Regions from separate parts of the Homo sapiens genome. Here region 1 is linked to region 2. The links come from fine-mapping of genetic effects on gene expression. Tissue or cell type: whole blood. Region 2 holds a variant in brackets; the other region holds the start of a gene. All regions are shown on one strand. Distances are between the middles of the regions.

Evidence for each region. PIP is the estimated chance that this variant, and not a neighbour inherited with it, causes the effect.
Region 1: EEF1A2 starts here. The variant in region 2 is fine-mapped to the expression of EEF1A2 in whole blood (TOPMed, PIP above 0.99).

Annotation. Positions count from the first base shown.
Region 1 is chr20:63,497,511-63,500,257 of GRCh38, forward strand. It overlaps EEF1A2 (eukaryotic translation elongation factor 1 alpha 2), which reads right to left and starts at 1,573. Exons shown (of 8, transcript NM_001958.5): 1 at 1,548-1,573; 2 at 110-324. The coding sequence starts at 253. LOC124904955 (a long non-coding RNA gene) reads left to right here and starts at 772. Exons shown (of 2, transcript XR_007067719.1): 1 at 772-1,113. RefSeq lists enhancers at 582-1,377, 1,638-2,207.
Region 2 is chr20:63,546,628-63,549,374 of GRCh38, forward strand. It overlaps SRMS (src-related kinase lacking C-terminal regulatory tyrosine and N-terminal myristylation sites), which reads right to left and starts at 1,122. Exons shown (of 8, transcript NM_080823.4): 1 at 481-1,122. The coding sequence starts at 836. RefSeq lists an enhancer at 195-836. The variant G/A (reference allele first, on the strand shown) is at 1,176.

The sequences.
Region 1 (2,747 bases), 49 kb before region 2:
GGAGGTCACCTGAGCCCCATGCCCTGGGGCTGGGAGATGCCAAGCCTGGCCACCACGGGAGTTGGGGGTTCCTTCTCAGGGGGCCAAGACCATAGCCTGGGGAGCTCACCTCAGCCGCCTCCTTCTCGAACTTCTCAATGGTCCTTTTGTCAATACCTCCGCATTTGTAGATGAGGTGGCCCGTGGTGGTGGACTTTCCGGAGTCCACGTGGCCGATGACCACGATGTTGATGTGGGTCTTCTCCTTGCCCATTTTGCTGGGAGTGTGAGGGGCTGGCGGGACCCGGGGTGCTCTGGCTCAGGGCGAGGGGGGCTGCAGTGATTCTGTGGGGCCAGTGGTGGTGGGGAGACCGGTGATGGGGAGCCCCAGGGGGAGACACCAGCAGAGACTGTCCTGGCACAGGCTGGACAGGCATCCCTGCCCACAAACCAAGCCCCCATGTTTGGTGGGGAGGGAAGGGCCCCCACCCACAGCTGGGCCTGGCCAGGGCAAGCAGAGGCTGTGCACTGCCCCCACCCCACACTTGAGCCCAAACAGCCCCATCTGCTGTAAATAACTGGGCGTTGGAGCCCGCGGGCTGCTCCTTGGGAAGGGGTTAGCCACCATTTGGAGAGACCACGCAGCGCCAGGCTGGGTACGTCCGTGACCAGCAGAGCCGGGTGATGAGTCACCTGCCCAGCGCTCCAGGGCCCTGTCCTGCACGCGCACTCCCCTCCCCGGCGGCAGGGCCAGGGACACGGCGCCCCACCCCCACCCGCTGCCACCGGGGAGAGATGGCCACTGCTCCCCACTCCCCTCCTCAGGCAGGGACGGCGCCATCTTCCCCTCATCCCTGCCCGGCAGGCTGGGCCAGAGCCCCGACGGAGATGCGCTGCCCAGATTAGGAACCCAGAATAGCTCTAGGCACCCCCCTCCCGGACTCTCACAGGGACAGACAGCGGCCGGGAGGTGGGGGTCCCTGTTCCAGCCTGAGGAAGGAGGACCCGGCCCTGCCGAGCCCAGCAAGTGCCAGGTGGAGATGCCCTCGGCCCCGTGGGGGTATAGGGGGCACCCTCCCTCCCCCCCTCCCTGTGACTCAGGACCCTGGGTCACAGCCCTGTCCCATCACAGAGGTCAGTGGAGAAACCCACGCTGCTCCTCGCGGACAGGTGGCTGGGGGAGGGAAAGAGGACAGAAGCCACCCTGGGGTGGGAACACGGGTGGGGGTGGGGAGGCCAGGGCCCCCAGATCTCACCACCTCCCTCAGCGTCCTCTGGCCCAGCGCCCCGAAGCCCGACCCCCATCAGCCCCCGGCCCGCAGGGTCCCCGCGGCCCCAAGGTCACGGCTACGGGGCGATCGCCGCCCAGGACCCGGCCCCGCCGCCCCGCGCCGCCCCCCACCCCGGGCCCAGCCCGGCCGACGCGGGGACCCCCGGAAGCCGGACTCCGGGCGCGCGCGGGGGCGGGTGCGGGGCCCGGCCACCCTCTGCCCCCCAGGACCGGCCCCGGGGGTCCCTCTTCGGAAGACGGGGGCGGGGGCGGAGGCCCGGGGGCCGAGCGTCCTTACCCGGAGCCGAGGTCTCAGCCAGAGGGACTGGCGGCGCCGGCGCCGGCGGTTTTATCTCCGGGAGGGGGTCCACCTATTGACGGTGGCGGCGCAGTGCACCGCGCCCTGCAGCACGCCAATGCGGAACCGCGCGGGAGGGGGCGGGGCGCGGACGCGCGCGGGCGGGCGCCACGGGGACGCGAGGCGATGCGGGAGGCGCGGGCTGCAAAGACGGACGCGGGAGGCGGGGGAGAAACGCGCCGCGGGCGGGGGCGGGGCGGGGGGCAGGGCAGGGAGGCGGCGGGAGGGAGGGACCGGGACGGAGACGGCGCGGGGAGAGCGCGGCGGGCCCGGGAGACGGGGCGAGAGCCGGCTCAGGGCAGGAACACGCTTGAGCCGCGAAAAGCGGTCCCCGGGGACAGGGCAGACGCCGAGGACCGGAGCCGGCAGGCGGGGGAGGGGAGCAGGTGGGCTGCAGCCTGGGAGACGAGCCTGGGTCTACCGGCCCCTCCCCGGCCCTGCTCATGGGGGACGCCCCAGAACCAACGAAGCCCGGCTCTGAGGGGCTCTCCCTAATGAGGCCCGGGGGTGCAGGCCTCAGGGTGGAAATCTGCTGGTTTCCAGTCCCTGTCCTCACGTGCCTGCCCTCCTGGGCGCACCATGACAGGCCCCGAGGATCCAGCGCAGAACCACCCTCCCCCTGAGAGGCTGGTCTCCCACGGTGCAGGGAACGCCGGAAGCCCGCTCCCAGACCCACTGACATCTTCCAGGGACCCTCCCCTCCGGGTGCGCCGACCTCCGGCTGCTGCTGGGAAACAGCGCCAGCCAAGGGCGAGTCAGATCCAGACAGACCCAGGCCCCCCCGCCCAGCGCCCCACCCCGCTGCACCTCAGCGCCTTGTAGCTGATGCTCATATGGGGTCAGGATGCCAAGCCAAAGACCGGGCCACGCTCTGTAGGAAGTGGGGAGTCCCTGAGGTCCTGGCACACGCGGGTAATGACCAACGTGGGTTGTGAGGAAGGGGATGTGGCAGCCATGTGTTGTGTGAAGACCAAGGTTAGGGGCTTTCTCCAGACCCCAAGATCCTGTCGTCTCACCCAGGTATTCAGGTCTTCCCTCCCACGCTGCCCCCCCACCCCCACGCACTCGGATCTTCCTGCCAGCGGGGTCTCGGGAGGTGTGTGCTGAGTGGGGGCAGAGCCCTGGCACCTGTCCTCTCAG
Region 2 (2,747 bases):
GCATGGGCCCCTGTCTCAGCCCCCAGCCCCCAGCCCCTGCTCACCTGCCGTCACCCAGAGCTCCTGGAGCTCCTGTCATCTGGTGCCTCCCAGCCCCCAGCCCCTGCCCTCCAAGCAGTGACCGATCCATGAACACTGGACTCCCTGTGTGAGGGCGGGAGGGCCTGGCCAGCCAGGCAGGGTCCTGGAGGAACCGCCTGCTGGGTGTCCAGCTGGTGCAGCTGATGCTCCCCCCCACAGGACCTGACCACGCCTGCCGGAGCCTCCTCTCCCTCTCGGCAGCCCACAGCGGACACTGCTGTTTTCCTACCACACCTGCCGGCCCGGGGCCCATCAGCTGTCCCTGAATGAATGCGTGGATGAACGAATGAATGAACAGATAGCCACGGACATGCGATTTCCAACTCAAAATCCTGCCGTTGTTCTGGACTCCCCAGCTGGGGGCGAGGCAGGCTCTGACTCCGAGGCCGAGGTACTCACGGTTGGTCTGAGAGCGTCTCAGGAGAAGCCTTGGCCACGTGGGTGATGGGCACGAGCCCGGCGCTGGGCTGGCCCGAAAGCCTGCGTGCGAAGATGTAGCCGCCCCCCTCTTCGAGGGCACAGAGCCTGTCCCCGCGGCGGACACTCAGCTCCCCGCCACACCGCGCCGTGAAGTCATAGAGCGCAAGGAAGAGCTGAGGGAAGGGGCTGCAAGGCTCGGCGGGGAGCGTGGGCACTGGGTCAGTGTTGGGGTCCAGGGACCCGGGGGTGCCATGGTCCGGCTCGCCGCCCGCCGGCCAGATCTTGTCCCAGAAGAAGGACAGGAAGGCCAGCCGCCTCCTGAGGAACGGCTCCATCCCCCGGGGTCACCACGCTGGGCCCGAGGGCCATGGGAGCCCGCGAGCCCGGAAGAGGAACTGGCAGGGCCGGTGGGACCCGGTGTCCAGCGCTCCCTGCCCTGGCCGTGGGGTGACAGGGGACCCCGGCCCTGCGGTCACTCAGAGGTCCCCTGGATCCAGGAGGCACACGGTTCCCACCGGCGTCCGGGCTGGCGTTGGGGCTGGGTGGGGCGCAGGGCGGACCCCCTGCCTCAGGCACACCGACAGCACCTCCTGTCCTCGACCTCCTTGGCGTCTGGAGTGCACCGTCCCCTCCCCAACCCGACGGCAGAGGGCAGCTTGGGCTGGGGCGGGGGC[G/A]GGCTCCAGGAGGGGCCCGAGGAGGGCGGGGTGGGCAGGGCCAGCCTCTCTCCCGCCCTCTGCAAGGCCCAGGCAGGCGGAATGGCTCTGCCCAGTCAGGCCTGGCCCATGCCCAAGGGCACCACAGTCCAACAGCCGCCCGTGCCCACGGAGAAGTGGGGGTTCCACGGAGAAGCGCTGCTGTTCAGCACCTGCAGTGGTTGCCAAGCCTGAGCTGCACTCAGGTGAAAAATTGCCTGCTTATTTAAGTGTTGGCCAGATATTTTAACATCATTAACCCTGCACCAGGTGCCGAGCCTCCGGCCTCTGCAGTAAATTCTGAGGACAGGCGAGTGAGGGGGCTCTCAGCACCCCGGCTTTCATGCAGTAAAACGAGATGCTGATTGCAGGGAGCTCGGCCGCAGGCCAGGCACCCAGATGCCCCATGCTGCCCGATGACCGGCTTCTGAGTCAGTCAATGCCCAGGCCATACCCAAAGGCCACTGCGGGGAAGTGGAGGCTGCGGACGCCTGGCCCCAGTTCAGGGGGATGAGCACACGGAGAAGGGGCGGCGGGTGAGTCCCTGGCTGGGGACCTCCCACCCTCTCCCTGGACAGCGCCAAGCCCCCGCATGCTGAAGCAAACTCTGCCCGCTCAGGTAGGTCCCCAGATCGGGGCAGGACTGGGGGAGCAAATCCCAGCAAAACCCAGCAGCACGGTACAGGGTCCTGAGGCAGGAGGATGGGGTGGTGGCCATCTGCAGTCTCTCTCTCCTCCCACATCCCCTCCGGGTCCTGAGTGGGGTGGGGTGGGGGCCATCTGCAGTCTCTCACTCCTCCCACCTCCCCTCTGGGTCCTGAGGCACGGGGGTGGGGTGAGGCCATCTGCAGTCTCTCACTCCTCCTGCCGGCCTCCCCCAGCAGCCCCTTCCGCACCTGGGTGGCCTTCAGGGAGCCTCACGCCCCTTTCCCACATCTCACACGCATCCATGCCCCCACTTCATGCGTGTGGCTGAATGCATCCCTCCAATAGGCGTGACCAGTGTCCAGCCAATGACAAGCCCCTCGCACCTGCCTGCCCTGGAGTCACAGATGGGCTTCTCAGAAACCTCACGTCTGGGGACTGGTGTGTGCATTGTGGGGTGGCAGTGACACCCGTGGCCTGGCTCTCAGGGCACCCCAGCAGCCAAGCTGTGTCCGGGCTGATAGCCTGGAGCCAGCAGGGGCCCTGGGAGACTGGACATCGCCAGGCTCAGGGCAGGCTCTGCACCAGAGAGGTGCCCTGCTGGGGGTGGTGGGGGGTGTTGAGAAATGTGGAGAATTGTAAATACTACATTGGGGGTGGCCTTCGAGGGGCCCCAGCGCCTTCTCCTCCCGCGCTTCCCCCCGCCGCCCTCTCCTCCCGCCCCCGCCGCCCTCTCCTCCCCCCACCCGCTGCCCGTCTCCTCCCGCCCCCGACGCCGTCTCCTCCCCACAACCCACCCCCGCCGTCTCCTCCCCTCCACTCCCCCCGCCGCCGTCTCCTCCCCACACCCACCGCCGTCTCCTCACGTGCAGGTGAGGCTTTTGCCCACCATTTCTTTTCTTTACTTTT